2 separate regions of the Homo sapiens genome follow, and region 2 is linked to region 1. Evidence: fine-mapped expression QTL. A gene starts in region 1. The other region holds a variant in brackets. All regions are shown on one strand. Distances are between the middles of the regions. Region 1 holds the start of ACAN (aggrecan). Region 2 overlaps ACAN (aggrecan).

Evidence for each region. PIP is the estimated chance that this variant, and not a neighbour inherited with it, causes the effect.
Region 2: its variant is fine-mapped to the expression of ACAN in spleen (GTEx, PIP above 0.99).

The regions. Positions count from the first base shown.
Region 1 is chr15:88,798,946-88,807,693 of GRCh38, reverse strand. ACAN (aggrecan) reads right to left here and starts at 4,258. Exons shown (of 19, transcript NM_001369268.1): 1 at 3,885-4,258. It overlaps LOC105370960 (a long non-coding RNA gene), which reads left to right and starts at 4,176. Exons shown (of 3, transcript XR_001751648.1): 1 at 4,176-4,244.
Region 2 is chr15:88,822,319-88,831,066 of GRCh38, reverse strand. The region is part of intron 1 of ACAN (aggrecan); the gene reads right to left. Among named protein-coding and RNA genes, the nearest start is that of ACAN, 23 kb to the right of the region's middle. The variant TG/G (reference allele first, on the strand shown) is at 5,289.

The sequences.
Region 1 (8,748 bases):
TTCTTGCCCTGGATTCAACTTTTGAAAAAAGAAACCGTTTTACCGTTTTCTCTACAAATTCCCCCTCTCTGGTCCTCCTCTCGCCTGCACTCCCGCTCCTTCTCCAGCCCTCCCCTTGTTCTGCCGGCCTCCCAGTGGCCCTTCTTCAACTGCGTCCAGGGGCCCAGACTCCCTCGCAGGGATGGCTGTGTCCTGTTGGATCTGGGGGAAGGGGAGCTGCCACTCCCAAAGTAGCTGTCACAGAAACGGGCCCTTCATCCCATTGAAGGGGCTTCCTTTAAGTTATCAGGGCGGCAGTGCGGCTACCATCAGGACACGAAGCATGGCCACGAGGCCAGGCCGTTGACAGCAGGAGAGGAAGGCTCCTGTTCCCAAGATGTGCTCCTGATCCCCTTTCCCAGGGCAGCTGCTGGCCTGTCCCCTCCCCTGCTCTACTTATAAGCAGACCTTCCTCCATGCCCTGCTTCCTCTCTGACTCTGGGTCCTCTTCCTTGAACTTGCCTTTCCCCAACTCCAGCTTCCACCTCAGCTGCCTTGACTCCCCAGCACTTGGTGCAGTGGCAGCAAGGATGCCCCAGCACCTGCCACCTAGGGCCACAATGCTGAAATTTCTGAGACAGAAACATCATTGGGACCAATATAGTAAAAAAAAAATTAAATAAAAATATATGCAAATATCAAATTTGTATATATTTGCATATATACATTTATATTATAAACATACATACCCTTATAGAGGGCTTCAAAATAAATAACAGAAACAAAAGTTTCCAGAAACAGTACTTACCTTTGCTACATAGGAGGCACTATGAGATTATCTGGTATTTCCTATTTTATTAAGAACCCCGCTAAATTGATCTCACAACCTGCAGTTGGACAAATCTGGTGCTAGACATCCCTGCAGCAGCAGAGACAGACTCAAAGTGGGACTCTAGGCAGGGTCTCATGGGCTTCCTTTGGCTCAGCTGAGGTCCTCCTAAGGGCCCAATAAGAAGGGTCTTGGGAGGAACCCAGTTCTAGAAGGAATCATTAAAAAGAAATTCACTGGCTGGGCATGGTGGCTCACGCCTGAATCCTAGCATTTTGGGAGGCTGAGGCAGGCGATCACCTGAGGTCAGAAGTTCGAGACCAGCCTGGCCAACATGGTGAAATCTCGTCTGTACTACAAATACAAAAATTAGCCGGGCGTGGTGGTACACAAGTAACCCCAGCTACTTGGGAGGCTGAGGCACAAGAATCACTTGAACCTGGGAGGCGGAGGTTGCAGTGAGCCAACATTGGGCCACTGCACTCTAGCCTGGATAACAGAGCAAGACTCCCATCTTAAAAAAAAAAAAAAAATTCACACCAAAAGTTAGGACACACAGTCTCTTATCAAGAGAAAACATTTGAAATTTTTGCTATCCATAACTTGGGGTTTGTGACCCACAAGGGGGCTTAGGAGCTGTTAGAGGAGAGGAATTAAAGTTTGTGGTGCTTGCTGAGAGCTGGACAAGGCACCCACTTTATGTCTTTTAATCTTCACAAAAATCTCTTATCGGAGGATTTTCTCCCCTTTTTAGAGAAGAGGAAATGAAGCCTCTGGGAGGCTCAGTACCCTTATCAAAGCCATGTAGCCAGCGAGTGGCTGAGCTGGAATTTGAATCCCAGTCTTCCTTGCATGCAGGCTGTCCACCCTCCTGGCTCTTGCCGACTGTCTCAGGAGGTGAGCTCTCTCTTGGAGCTCCCTCTCTAATTGGGGAGGGGGCATAAGAGGAGGAGAACGCTCTGCCTTGGCATGCAGGGGTGAGTGGCTGCCTGGGATTGGGCGTGTGGGTGTGAGAGAGATGGGGAACAGGGGCAAGAGGTGTGCCTGGGTGTGTGGAGGGCTTCCGAACATTAAACAAAATATTCCCTTTTAAGTATGATTGTCAGTGAATATTCTAGAAAAAGAAAAACATTCATTTACTACTAGAATTAAGAATGATAATAGTAATATTAATAATATGAAACAGTTACTGAGTACTTGCCCAGTGCCAGGCACTACGCTAAGCCCTTTGCTTGGGTCATCTCATATCTGCTGTTTATTGAGTACCCGCTGTGGGCCAGCATTGAGCACAGAGCCTGGCACCTAGGTGGCGCTCAGCAGATATTGGAGAATGAATGAAAATACCAGGCACAGCACTAGAAACTACACGTAAGAATATCTAAATTAAACACAGCTCAAGGTAACCTGTGGAATTCCAGCATCTCTCCAAGAGATATCTTCTTCCTTTGGACAATTCCTTCTTCTGAAACTTTTTATACTGGGGAGATCTACTATTCTGCAATCTTTCTTTCAGGTTAGAACCTCTCCTCCCCACTGCCGCTCAATGCTTCCTCCCCCAACGAGCTTCAGGGTTTTCTTCCCCATTGCCTTTCCATTTCCTGCAGTTTCTCCCTGGAGCCTGTGATTGACAAGCCAACACTCCTAAACCGTATCTTCATAGTGCCTCCAAACCCACCTTGCCCAGGGTGCATGAGCAACCTGATTGCTCCTTGTCCATGGCAACCCAGGACAAGAAAGAGAGATAAGGATTAGAACCCAAGAATTCTGGACTCTTAAATCAGGACGAGGGACCGACTATGGCCTCAGAAAACCTGGATTCTAGTTCTGCCCTTGACCCTAAGTCACAGTTCAACCTTCAGAAATTCATTGCACCTTTCTGGGTCCACTTGCCCTCCTCTTCAGACGAGGTGGGTGAATTTTCAAGGTCCAGAGTCCCCTCTAAACTGTCAGACACCCACCCACTGCAGCACCCAGGACCCCAAAACACCGTGCTAACCCAATTCAGCTTTGTATTTTCCTCCTGGCAGCCAGCCCCACAGAACCAGAATTTACACATCAGTCAACATGCTGGAACTCCAGCTTCTTCATGGTGAAACCCTAGTAGGATCCTGTCAGAACCCAGCTCATGACTGAAAGGAGGATAATGATGGAAAAGTTTGGGTTGGATCCTGTCTCACAACCAGAGACAAGCCCCCACCCCCGCAGCTTGCTCTGCCCAGAGTGTGGTTCAGTTGACATACTGACAGCCTCCAACCCAGCCCCAGGGTTGGAAAGGGCTCCTGCTCCACCAGCATTGGCTTCGTTTGAAGAGGAACCCACAGACGGAAAAACCGCTCGTGGTCGTGTGTCCTCAACTCCCCTCCCCTTTCTTCCTTGAGAAATGCCCCTTCTTGGTTGGACACCCGTGTGTTCAGGGCACTGCTCTCCTCTCCCCTGCTGGCAGTTCAGTAGCTCTGTCCCAGGTTCTGCCACTCTCCCCTGGGCAGACTCTTCAGGCACTCTGGTCCCTGGAGTAAGCCAAGTGGCCAAGGATGGACTATCTAGCCTCGGCTTAGGACCCGCTGTGTCCCTGACATAGTGTCCATATGATTTCATTTATTCTTCCAGACCCCGCGAAGGCCTTTTCCCTCTCAGCTGACAGACGGCAGGCCAAGGCTCAGGAAGGTGAAGCACACCTTCCAGCTCAAAAGTAGCACCTCGGGGATTTGAACCCACATTCCCTTGACTCTGAAGCTGCTACTCTGTCAACCATGGGTCTTTCCAGACCCTAGGATTTAAAATCACCTAGGTGTTTGGAGAAAAGGCTCCCTTGTTCCTTCATCCTGGCGGACTAGGAGACAAGTGCCCCTCCTCACGTGTTCCTTTGCCCCATTCACTGAGTCTGCAACAGCCAAAAAGTTTGCTCAACTCCACCGCGGACGCAGCCGGTGGATGTGCTGCGCCCCCGGCACACATAGCTCTAGGGCGGAGACCAAGGCAGTGCAGCCCCCAGCCCCGGGGCGTGCAGTCTCAGTCCCGTTCCTGGCTCGCCGGGCGCCCTGGGAGAGCCTCGCTCTGGAGGGAAGGAGACAGTTACCTTGAAGAGTTGGACTCCCTTCTCCAAGAACTTCAGTCCCACACACCTGGCGAGGCAGCTGGGGGCTCCTGGGGCCGGGAGGCCCGGGTCTCGCTGCGTAGCGAGGGAGACGCTCTGCGCGGGCGCTGCGCACCCCTCCTCCTGCCGGCGTCCTGTCCGCAGGTCCCCTCGGGCTGTGGCCGCAGCGGCAACTGCTGGGTTGCGGAGTCCTGGCTGGCTGAGGGAATGGACACTGAAAGGTGCCCGGAGACCCTGGCACCCGCGTCAGACGCCGGCCGGCGAGGGTGCTGAGAGAGAGAGACCTTGAGCAGCGCTGCGCGCGTCCTCAGCTCTGCGAGCCCCCTCTGGAGCGGCGGGGAGGTAGGTGGGCGGGCGGGCGGGCATGGCGCGCTGTGACACATACATAGGGACGGGCGGGGGAGGGGAGGGCCCGTGAGGGGTGGGGGCGGGAGGGGGCGAGCGCAAAGGGAAACCCCACCCCCAGGGACCGAGGGGCGGCCGACAGGGGGAGGGGAAGGCAGAGGCGTCTGGAGCGCGCTGGACCCTGGCTCCGGACCGGCGCGCCGATGGGGAAGCCGGCCTGCGCTCAGGGCGGGAGAGGAGCGCTCCCCGGGGCGGCGCGGACCCGGCAGCTCCGGGGCTGGCGGGAGGAAGGCGGCGCGAGAAGGGCTGGAGGGCCCGCATCTGCATTGCGGTCGGCAGCTCCGCAGTCGGAGGGGCCCAGGAGGGCTGCACCCTCAGAGAATCCCCAAGTGCCCGGACTCTGAGGCCGCCGCGGCGGGACAGGGCTCCCGGGCGCCCGGCGGGGTTCTGCAGCTGAGGCTGGCCACGACGCGATCTAAGGAGGGTGCAGCCCGCTACTGTCGGCCACGATTTGGAACGACCCTCACCGAGGAGCTGGCTGAAAGTTTTTTTGGGGGTGGCGTACACCGGGATGGCAGGGGATGGTGGAGAGGGGGAGGTAAGGCGTCAGCGGGGAGGCTCACGGGGAGCTGCGAGTCTCTGGGTCTTCAAATTCCCCGGGAGAGACCAAGGACATCTCATATGAAGCAGGAATTCTCCAGTGTCTCTACAGTACTCTTTAATACCGTTTTCAGGAAAAGGAGAAAAAGAACTAGCAGCTTTTGAATCCCTCCTATGAGCCCGTTGTGTAACATACATTAACATTTCATTTAATTTTTCCAAAGAGCCCAACAAGGTAAATATGGCAACTTCCCACCTGCCCCTAACCAAAGATGTGAAAACTGAGGCTCAGAAAGTGGTGGAGATCCCTCTTGAAGGTGGGACTGAGTTCGAGTCCCAGGTCTTGTGCTCTCTGCTACACAGGCTGCTGGTTGAGCCACAGCACCTTCGGAGGACTCAAGCTGGCTGGTGACCTTCAGAGTTCTTGTGGAGGAAGCTGGTGGTGCTTCACACCAGGATGTGGTGGCCACAGTCAGGATGGTGGTGGAAGCTTCCTGACCCTCTCATTGGGCAAGAAGAGGAAGAAGTGGAATCTTTCGGGACTCCCCACTACAGAGATAATAGACCACACTTTAATCAGTTCCTTGATGAAAAGGAACTGAAGTGCCTCGGTTTCCCCAGGGCGACTCCACTGGAATTATGTGGTTATTTTACTGGCCATCTCTGCCTGGGGGCGGGACTGGCCCTGGCCCAGCACATGCTCTGTGAGCCGCCTGTCTCTCCCCTGTCCAGGGCAGTGAAGCCCCGTCGGAGGGAGCATAGTGCCCACTCTATCCACCCACCTCTCAGAGCAATGGCTAAAGTGTTCCAGTGGTTGGCCATTCTTGATTTCACCCTTTTTCTACCTGAGCGTATTGAGTCAGGTCTGTAAGTCTTGAAGCATTTAGGACACAGACAAAATGCTGGTGACCGAAGCCCCTTAGGGGGTGATAGTGGCTTCTCTCACAGATAAAGAAATGAGATGAGGCCGGGCGCAGTGGCTCACGCCTGTAATCCCAGCACTTTGGGAGGCCGAGGCGGGCGGATCACGAGGTCAGGAGATGGAGACCATCCTGGCTAACACGGTGAAACCCCATCTCTACTAAAAATACAAAAAAATTAGCCGGGCGTGGCGGCGGGCGCCTGTAGTCCCAGCTACTCAGGAGGCTGAGGCAGGAGAATGGCGTGAACCCGGGAGGCGGAGCTTGCAGTGAGCTGAGACGGCGCCACTGCACTCCAGGCTGGGCGACAGAGCAAGACTCCGTCTCAAAAAAAAAAAAAGAGATGAAATCTTAATAGTTACTGGCCTCAATGCCTGGAACAGGGAGAAATGACCCTCTGGGAAAAAAACAGTCCCTGAAATTCCAACGAGGTCATGGATTCTCATGCCTGTGTTTACCTGATGCCTTGTGGGAGAACAAATTGCTCTCATTTGTAAAATGGGTTCATGTCAACATTCATCCTAGGGCAGGTGGGGTTAATGAAGAACAAGTCAAGGGCAAATATTAATTAGGCGATTTATCTTTGTATTGAAGGGAACAAATGTTTATTGATCATCTGGTTTTGTAATGAGTCTAAGAAACATATATTGGGCACCTATTATGTGTCAGATGCTGCTTGGTACAGCAGCCTCTCAGATGGATGCCATTCCCATTTACACACTAAGAAACCAAGACTCAGAGGCCATCAAGGTAGTGAATGGGATTGGAGTACAGGCTGGTATGAATTCACACTCCCTAGCCCTAAAGGATACAAAAAACCCAGGATAATGGCAACGCATTTGGACACTTTAAAGACAGTATTCAGAGAGTCAAAGGACATGCGTGTCAGAAGGCCCTTGGTGGCATACACAGGCTCTTCCTGTCCAACTCAGGAGCTCTGTTCCAGTGTAATATTTCTGAAGCTGGTCATCTCCTCTTCTGCTAGAATACTTTACAGTTGCCTAATGCCTTTTCCAGGCTGCCCGATGCAGTCTGCTGTAAACTGGCAATTTCTAACCTCTTGCTGCTCAGAGTATGTTCTATAGACTGGCAGTGTCACCTGGAAGCTTATTCAAAATGCAGAATGCCAGGTTCCCCAGACCTACTGACTCACAATCTGCATTTTAACAAGATCCCTCCCGTGTTGTATATGCCTGCTGAAGTTTGAGAAGCACTGTGCTGACATCATTCAGCAGGTTCTACTCATTCAATCACAAATCACAGAATAAGAGAATCTCAGAGCTGGGAAGAGCTCTTGGAGAACTTTAAGGACACCCCTCCATAGAGTATGTCAGTCCTGTCCATGATGTTTCCCTCAAGTAGGACATCAGACTCTGCTTGGATGTGGCCATGAGTTTGACTCCCTTCTGAGGCCACATCCATTTTTTTCACGTGGTTCTTGTATTTAGGCAGCTTTCAGCTTTCACAGAAGCTCATGCCCAATACTGTGGATTCAGCAGTGAACAAGACAGGCCCATTTCCATCCCCCCAACCCTAACCTGTCCCAGGACCTCCTGCCACGTGATAAACCTTTCTGTTTGGAATCAGTGATCTCAAGTCTCTCCCTTCTCCCTTTTGGATTGGGTCCAGAGGAGAGCTCACCTCAATAACCTGGGTCCTGTGCTTCTGGTAATGCAGCCAACATTTATGTGCTTTTATGACAGCCTCATCATGACTCATTTGGAGCCTGCAGCCAGCTCAGACTTCCTTTTCACAGTGCTTCTGCCACCTAGCATCTCCTTTGGCTTATCCTGGTACAATGGGTTTTTCCAATCCAAGTGTGGGGCTTCATTTTTGCTTCTTTTAAACATTACACTAACTAATTCAGTTTACTACTTCAGATCATCTTGGATTCTGACTCTATTATTCTGTGTGTTTGCCATTCCTCTTAGCAGCAGACATTCTACAAAGCTAACTAGTGTGCCACTTCTATGTTTTCATTCAGGCTGCTCATAAAAATATTGCCTGGGACGGAGATTAGGGCTGAGTTCTAGAGCAGAGCACTAGAGACAGCCCCCCTGGAATGAACGACATAATCCGATATTCCAGTTATAATGGCTGTGTAACAAATCACCTCAAAACTGAGTGTCTTAAAACAATAGTTATTTAATATCTCTCATGGTTTCTATGGATCGGGAATTTGGGAGAAACTTCGCCAGGCAGTTCTGGCCTGGACTAGCTCTTGAAGTTGTAGTCAGATGTCAGTTACAGCTGCAGTTAGCTGAAAGCTTGACTGGGGCTTGAGGATCCATGTCCAAGGTGGGTCGCTCACGTGATTGGTGAATTGGTGCTGGCTGCTGGCCAGTGACCTCATTTCATCTCCATAGGGCCTCCCGATGGAGCTGCTTGAGTGTCCTCATGACATGGCAGCTGGCTTCCACCACAGTGAGTGACACAGGGAGTGCAGTGCTTCTGTGTCATAGCTTTGGAAGTCCCACACAGGGCCAGCCCTGAACTAGTGTGGGAGGGTCATACAGGATGTGAATACCAGGGGATGGGGATCACTGGGGGCATCTTGGAGGCTGGCTTCTACACTCCATTAAACTAACTCATAGAGCATGGCCAGTCCCCCCATCCATCTGACTGTATTACCATGGAGTGCTTATTTCTGTCCCATACATGGGGACACCATGAAGGTACCTTGCTAAGTCCCAATATAAGGTGCTTGCAGAATTCCTCTGAAGCATTCATTCCAAACTCTTTTACAAGTGAGTGGCCCAATTCTGCTCTCTAGAGCAACACAGTCTGCCCCCATTTCAACAGGGGCAGCCTCCAGTTAGTGCAGGAGGGTTCTCACATCACCCTTCATGTCTCTCCTCACAGGGTCTTTGACTGTTTCCCAAGGGAGTGTTCTTCTGGAGTTTGCTTCTGGATTCCTCACTCTCTGCGAACCTTGTTTGTGGATGCCCCTCAAAAATGCAATGCCCGGCATTAGATGCACA
Region 2 (8,748 bases), 23 kb before region 1:
CTTCTTCTTTTTCTTTTTCTTTCTTTTCCTTTTTGAGAGTGGATTTACCAGCATACTACTGGACGTAACTACAGCCATGGGCCACATAACATTTCAGTCAACAACAAACTGTACCTACGATGATGGTCCTGTAAGATTCTAATGGGGCTGACAAACGCCGATCACCTGGTGATCACCTGGTGATGCTGCAGCCGTTGTAGCGTCATAGTGCAATTACTTTATTTATTTTTACAAATTTAGTGTAGCCTAAGTGTACAGTGTCTATAAAGCCTACACCAGTGTACAATAATGCACTAGGCCTTCGCATTCACTCACCACTCAGTCACTCACCCATCCAGAGCAACTTCCAGTCCTGCAAGCTCTGTTCATGGTAAATGCCCTATAGGTGTACCATTGTTTATCTTTTATACAGGATTTTTACTGTATCTTTTATAGGTTTAGATAGGTTTAGATACACAGAGGGAAGTATTTGTGTATACACAAAGGCAAGTATTTGTGTATCTAAACCTATCTACACATACAAAAGGTACAGTAAAAATACAGTATTCAGTACAGTAACATGCTGTATGGGTGTGTCACCTAGGAGCACTAGGTTATACCATATGGCCTAGGAGTGTAGTAGGCTGTACCATCCAGGTTTGTGTAAGTACACTTTAGTGGAGGGGTCTCCACTGCACATGTTGCTGGATGACAAAATTGCCTAAGAATGCATTTCTCAGAACGCATCCCTGTTAAATGTTGCATGACTATAATAGTAAATAAAGAAACGGGCTGGGGAAGGATAATGAGCACTTTTCTTTCCTTTGAATGAAGCCTCATTCTCCATTCATTGTGCTGTCCTCCATGTGTCCCTGGGGACATTGAGGCTGGCCCTAAAACCAAGGCCAGTTTGCCAGCCCTAGGGTATGGTCAGGAAATGTTCATCTCCATGTCACCTCCCCTGGCCCAGCGTGAGTCCACATCAGTGTAGACTCAGCAAATGTTTGCTGGCTACGTGAACGCCCACCCTCCTCTCCCAGATCCTGCAGGCCTCCTCCCTGAAACCTCACCAGGCCTTGGCCCTGGGTTGTATTCCCCCCAGCTATGACTTTCTACACACTGTTTAGCACCCAATTTTTCTTCTGTTGTTTTATGTGTGCTAACTCTGTCTCATCACGCAGACTGTGACCTCCTAGAGTTTGAAAATCAAGTCTTAAATGAAAACAAAATCCCTTTATGCTAACTCACACAGTACCAGGAATAACACAAAATGGTATTTGACACCTCCTTGTTAGATGAGTAAGTAGACGTTGGGGTTTGGTAGACTGGTAGACCAGTAAGATTTGCCTGCGACCAGGTGGCTCTGTGTCCCTGACTTAAGTCCTAGAAGATGGATTCGAAAGGACCAAGGTGCCCCATTCCTGTAGTCACCAGTCACCAGCACATCACTTATTTGCAGCCTAATCTCCCAATAGCACCTTTTCTCTTGTCACTCGCTCATGAACAAGATCATCCTGATAGCTGTGCATAAACGCAGTAGCATATGCACTCGAGGCTGGGATTTCAAACCCAGCATAGGGAAAAGGCCAGGGACCCTACACCAAGAGCATATCTGGCCAGAGTCACCCCAACTGCAGCTGTTAACTTCCCACATATTCTAAACAGACGTGGTGGGATGGTATAGAAACGGGAAGCCAGGAAGCTGATTTCAGTCCCAGCTCTGTCCTAACTCACCAGGAAACTCATGTAAGGCCTCAGTTTACAGTTTTCCCTTCTGTAAATTGGGATCATCATGCAAGCATCACCCCCAGGGAAATTGTGAAGGTAATTTTTGTAGCTGCCAATACTCTTTTGATATTTCCTCCTCTTTCTCTTCTCCCCACCTTCTTCAACACCTTGTCTTTTTCCGTATCTTTGATTTCCTTTTTCCAAATTTGTTACTTGCTCTGTCATCACTGAAGCATCTTAAATCAAATTCCATGTGTTTTTCTCCATTCCGGGCAAGTGTGTAGGTCCTGTGAAACAGACAGTTGGCAGCAGGGTGGGGAGTGCTGGAGATAAACCCTTCAAGGCCATACTTTTGTCTAGGATTGGCCTTGAGCAGCTCTGTGCTAAGACAGAGGGGCCCAGTGAAGGGAAAGAAAGGTTTTTCCTTGGAGTTGCTTCTAGCCTAGTGAGTGCAGACAAACCTGTATCCAGAGATAGCAGACATGAGTGAGTCGGCTCTGGGTCCTAACCTTGGCCCTGACTAAAATGGCTGCCTGACCCGGAGCCTCGGATTTTCCATCTCTGAAATGGGGGCAGGTGGGAGAATTAACTCTGGAGTTCCCTGAGATTCCAAATGCCAGCTCCACGCAGTGCAGAGAAGAGTTCCACCTTTTTAACTTCTGGGAACAGAAGGAACTGCATCTCCACCCTCTCAGCCTCCCTCATGGCCAGGGACCTGCTCATTGCTTGCTGTTCTGCTGCAACATCCAGGGCAATGCACAAGGGTTTCGCTTGCCTATTGAGCACATTCTCTGGGAAGGTCCAGCCTATTCAGAAAGATGCCCCCATGCCCTCACTGTGCTAGGGACGAAAAGGCAGAAAGGAGAGTTGTGAGGTTGGGAGGGTGGTGCACACATCTAACAGAAGTGAGGGGAGGCTCTCTGGGGAGCAAAAAAAAAGGCTCGGGTAGTGGAGCTGCGAGAAAAGAAAATAAGAAACCGAGAAATGACACCACGGAGAGTGTCATACCTGCAGGTTATACTTGTTACCTGACTGCCGATGTGGCATGGGTCTTATCCCCTGGCAGTGCCCTATTTGAATCTGGGGCTAGGGTCTGGCCCTGTCCTTTCACTCCCTTCTTTTGCTCACACAGTTCCATTCCTTCAAAAAACACCCTCTCTTTAGCTCTATGTCTGACCTATTCCCACCTTCCTTGAGGCCCCATGCAAATGCCACCGCCTGGAAACCTCCCCCAGCCTGAAACGCTCTCCTGTCTGCCTGTGTCCTTTGTCATTTCTTGTTGTTATGACCAACTTATTAGCAGACTCATCTTGGCTTGTGGCTTCTTTCCCACTTTTGTTTCAAACTACTAGGCCAACCACTTAAGGGATGTGTGCATGGGTGGGTGCGATGGCCAGGGTGGGAGCAGGCCCTGGTGCAACAGAAAGAGCATGATTGGGAGTCAGACAGATGTGGCTGAATCGCAGCTCTGACACTTTCCTGTGAGCATATGACCTTGGCTCAATTATTTAACCTCTCGAGGCTCAATTTCCTTACCTCTAAAGTGCTGATTAGATAGGATCTATCAAATAGCATAGGACGCTGTAGGACTTAAATGAGAGATGCTGAGTTGGCCTCCTTTCTCAAGGTTTGTCTGGCTGGTTCCTCCCTCACTGAGGAGCAAGAACACCTGCATTGTGTATGCCCCTCACTGCATTTCAACTAATATGGATACACCAAGCACCTACTATGGGCACTGAGGTCAGTTTCTGCACAAAGTAGCCACCCAACTAATGGGTGCTAGCCTGATAAAAAGTGCCACTCACATGCAATTTGCATCTATATCGAATTTAAATGATGGTCCAAGTGAATGGGGCACTGAGGTCAGTTTCTGCACAAAGTAGCCACCCAACTAATGGGTGCTAGCCTGATAAGAAACACCACCCACATACAATTTGCATCTGTATCTAATTTAAATGATGCTGTAAGTGAATGGTCATTTGTTCTGCAGTGACAGCAAACAATGGGGCCCCCCACCCCACCAACTATTTTAGCCTAGGGATCATTCCTCTATTCACCCCAGGACTAGGATGTGAGTTCAAATAAAACTGTGGACTGTAAAGGAAGAGCCTAATCTGCCACTGCCGTCTCCACGGCTTGCCACAGAGCTCTTGGAGCTTCTCTGTGGTCAGGGAGGGCAGTCACCCCCTCTCTATCTTCAGGCAACAGTGGGCATTTTATAGCCAGAATCCACTTATGCCATGGCTTCAGGAACAATCTAGGGGCCATCTTTAGGAAGGGCCTGCTGTATGTCAGGAACTCCTCTCTGAGCTGTACATGTGCCGTTTCTTATCCTTAGAACAGTCTTCATAGGAAGGAAGACAATGGCTCAGAGAGGTTAGACAACGTGCCCAAAGTCACACAGATAGTGAGTGGCTGAGTTTGGTTTGGAATCCAGGTCCTGTGGCTACAATGCTATGGTTTTCTCAGCATTTACAGTCCCTTTACGCTCATTAGCTTTACTCATTAATTCCATTATTCAGTCAACAAACACATTTCAAGGGGGAGACAACATACTAGGTAACAAATATAAATCAAGGGGGATATGGGGAATGTTCTCATGGAATTTCAGATCCGGAAAGTTTTAGGGGTTGGTAGATGGGAAAATGCATCACTAATTAGTTCACGAGAGAGGGAAACCCAAATCTCTTCCAGTTCTGCCCAGGAATATGGGCAGAGTGCCTGGAATATGCGCACGGTTGGTGGGATCTTGCCAATGAGTAACACAGGGTCCATTTTGGAGGAGGGGGTTCCCAAGTGGGACTCCTGATCCACTCCTGGACCTTCCATCCACAGGGCAGGGCCCTGCTGGGGCTCTGAGTCCTGGCTTTCCCTGTGTCTCCAGGGGTCCCCTGCAAAGCTGGCTCCTACAGCCCAGCATGGTGGCTCTTCCACAGTGTCCTTCAGGCAAATTTCCCAGGGGCTCCAAAAAAAAAAAAAAAAAAAGAAAAAAAAGGCCACTATACAAATGCCCTGCTCCGTGGCAGGGCTGCAGACAGTCCTGTTAACTTCCTCCAGGGGTTTTCAGGATGAGCTTTTTCAAGAGCTCTAATCAAGTCATTTCTGATTAAATGGGCTATGTCTCAGCCAGCACCTACAAAAGCATGATCATCATCTGCTCAAAAATATCTGGATTCCTACTAGTCAACCTGTGGGTAGTCAGTAGAGCCCCCCGACGTGAGCTGAGTCTCTAACCTTTTCTAAAGTCCCATCCTACCATGAGAGACCGCGTACCTCTGGCAGTTGGAAGAGCTGACCAACTCCTGCTGCTTCCTGTGTTGCTGATCACAGAGGGACAGGGAGAGGGGTGTTTTGAAGCCTCTTCGAAACTTCAGCTTCAGAAATCAGCCCACGGAGCTGTTTCTGCCACTGCCAGTCCGAGGCCAACCTCACTGTCCTGACCAGGAGCCAGGCGGATGCTAGTCAAACAATAAAAACAGAGCTGGCCTTGGTTTGCCGAAGGCCTGTGTGAGCTTTTAGGTGAAGGTTCTGCCTGCTTCTGGAGGTGGGGGTGGGCACAGTAGGAAGTGGAAGGAGCAGGC[TG/G]GGGTTTAGGACGTGTAGTACAGAAATACTTGAAAAGATGACATCAATCTCTCCCCTCTCTGGCCTCTCTGTCGTGATTCCCTTCACTCACTGATCTATGTCCCTGCTAGTAATACCTCTTTGACTTGGACCTGTTGGGACAAGAGATACGCTGTTCTTCATCCTCTCTCTGAGGTCCACTTTGGACCCAGTCTCTATGCAGTTTCCTGAATAGCCTCTTCTCAAGCCTCTTGGGAGATAACATGGTACACTAGAAGGTGGGTATCTTAAGAACACAACCTGAATTCATACCTTTGACTCATAATGTACTATCTAGGTGAATCTGGGGAAGTTTCTTGGCACCTTTGGCCAGAATTTTCATAGGTGAGGCCTCTGGAAATTACTTATTTCCAGTTAGGAGAAGAGATACAGAGTGATGATTCCTTGTGGCAACTTACTTGGAACTTCCTCTTATTCCTTCCAAGTCACCCACCAGAAGTCCTCGTGTTCCCTGGGTAGTCTGATCCTGCTGGAGGGGGTGGGAGCAAAAGGGAGCTTGGCCTATGGACTTCATGGCAGAAAAGGATGAATGTTCTTGGAGAAAAATCCAGCTCCTTCCCAGGGCCTGTGAGGCCCCATGTGATCCGCTCCTGCTCCTGCTCAGATCACTATTCCCCAAACCCTCAACCCCGCCACATTCTAGCTGTGCCTTGACCACACGAGCTGATTTTGTCCTAAGGGTTTTGTGCTTGCTCTTTCTTCTTCCAGCACACACTTCTGGATCTTTCCCTCGCTGGCCATTGTCATTCTAGCCTGTTTAAATGTCCCTTCCTTGACCACCCTGCTCCCCTATCCCTCCCTCCCTATCATGTTACCCTGTTAAAGTCTATTTATAGCTTTTTTTTTTTTGACAGAGTCTCGCTCTGTCAGCCAGTCTAGAGTGCAGTGGTGCTGAAGGCCTGTCAGATCTTGGCTCACTGCAACCTCCACCTCCCGGGCTCAAGCAATTCTCCTGCGTCAGCCTCCCAAGTAGCTGGGATTACAGGTGTGTGCCACCATGTCTGGCTAATTTTTGTATTTTTAGTAGAGATGGGGTTTCACCATGCTGGCCAGGCTGTTCTTGAACTCCTGACCTCAGGTAATCCGCTTGACTTGGCTTCCCAAAATGCTGGGATTATAGGCATGAGCCACCACACCTGGCCGATAGCATCATTATTATTTGAAATTATTGTCCTTTTTTGTTTGTTCACTGTCTGTTTCAGCTACTTGAATATACACCCCATGAGGGCAGGGAGTTTTTTTGGTTTTTCTCACTGCTGTATTTCCGGTGCCTAGAACAGTGCTTGGCACATAGTAGGTGCTCAACAAGTATTTGTTGAATGAATGAATTCTCTTAATCACTAGGCAATGTCCCTTTGTATTAGGTTTGGAAGTAGAAGGAGTGTTAATCTTTTTGTTGTTGTTGTTGTTTTTTTTTTTGAGACGGAGTCTCGCTCTGTCACCCGGGAGTGCAGTGGCGCAATCTTGGCTTACTGCAAGCTCCGCCTCCTGGGTTCACGCCATTCTCCTGCCTCAGCCTCCTGAGTAGCTGGGACTACAGGTGCCCGCCACCACGCCTGGCTAATTTTTTGTATTTTTAGTAGAGACGGGGTTTCACTGTGTTAGCCAGGATGGTCTTGATCTCCTGATCTCGTGGTCTGCCTGCCTCGGCCTCCCAAAGTGTTGGGATTACAGGCGTGAGCCACTGCGCCCGGCCAGGACTGTTAATCTTAAGACCGATCATAACTGTTGAGTGTCACCTGATCTCACAGTCTTCCTGCCTCAGCCTTAGAACACATAAGAAGCCCCAGGAGGGAGGGTAGCTCTGAGTAGAGCTGTCAGGGGTAGCCGGGAGTGCACACACGGCCCATGGAAATATCCATTCTCACTCCTTTTCTGCTAAAAGAGGTGCAAGAGTGGAGAAGGATGGGCCTGGGCCACCAAGCAGGGAGTAGTAGGTGACCCCAGAGACATCTAGGGACAAAAACAGAACTCAGAGCTGAGCTGTGTGCTGAATGAAGGCTGCATCTCCAAGAGGCTGGGAGTGATGCTGAGTCCAGGTACCGGAAAGGAAGGCCAGTGGTGCTTCCTAAGGATGGGGTGGCTGCAGCCGTGGATGGCCCCAAAGCATGTGCCTGTAGAAGGGTGGGCACGTGAAGGATGAATTTGGCTGAACACCATCAGCCTTTTCCCACGATTCTTACCCCTCCCCACTCTCAATTGCAAATTCCCAGGAAAACCAGTTTAAAGTGGAGAAGCACTGGGCATGATTAATCCTCCTGCTTCACTCATCCAGGGACACTCAGCTTTGCCCTGTTCTGTGAGAAAAAACAAGAAAAAAAAAAACCACCAAAAAACCAAAACTAGTACCAGGGACCAGCCCCTTCCTGTTCTCAGCCTTCTGCTCCAGTCCAAGCACTTGGAAGTTTTCTCTGCATTAATTTCAGACTTTGTGTAAATATCAGACCTGAGTTTTTGGAAAGGAGTATACTTCAGCCCAAAGTTTCCAGCAGGCGCAAGTACCTTTCCTGGGCAGGGATCTTGGGCCAAGAGCTAAATTCCCTTTACTTGGCGCTGACTGCCAACCCTGCAGGACAGAGAGATCTTTCCTCTATGAGAAGGGGCTGGGAGACCCAGTGTGATGCTTCAGTAGCCTCCCTGTGTGGAAATTGAGCCCAGGTTTAATAAGTGACCTCCAGTAAATGTGTCTGGCAGCTGAGGGTCCTGATGGAAATGCCTGCTTGCCAGAAAGGGCCATCAGATGTGTGGAGTTATAGCTGAATTTCTGGACAAAGCAAGGGCCAGGTGCCTGGGATGTGGCTGTAGGGAAACAAGGGGTGACTAGTCCAATCCTTTCAGTTTTGGGGACAGATGCTCGGGTTCTTGGAGTTTAGTCCTTGGATCTAGTCAAAGGTAAGAAAGGAGATGGGTTATCTGTAGTCCAACCTCATTATTTGGACCCTAATTGCAACCCCTGATTCCAGGGTCTGGGAAGGACCTCACCTCATAGAACACATGTAGTTAGCGGCCAGGCGTGGTGGCTCACGCCTGTAATCCCAGCACTTTGGGAGGCTGAGGCGGGCAGATCACCTGAGGTCAGGAGTTCGAGACTAGCCTCAACATGGAGAAACCCCGTCTCTACTAAAAATACAAAAAATTAGCCAGGCATGGTGGCTGAGGCAGGAGAATTGCTTGAACCTGGGAGGCGGAGGTTGCAGTGAGCCAAGATCACGCCATTGCACTCCAGCCTGGGCAACAAGAGCGAAACTCCATCTCAAAAAAAAAAAAAACATGTAGTTAGCTCCTTGGATCATGGTTCTCTTTGAGAGCTGATGGAAGCTATGGACACAGTTCTTAGGAAATAGTGTTCACGCTCCTGGGATTTTCTGTATGATTTCAGGGCATTCACAGAGCAGTCCTTCTGTGCAGCAAAGGATTAAC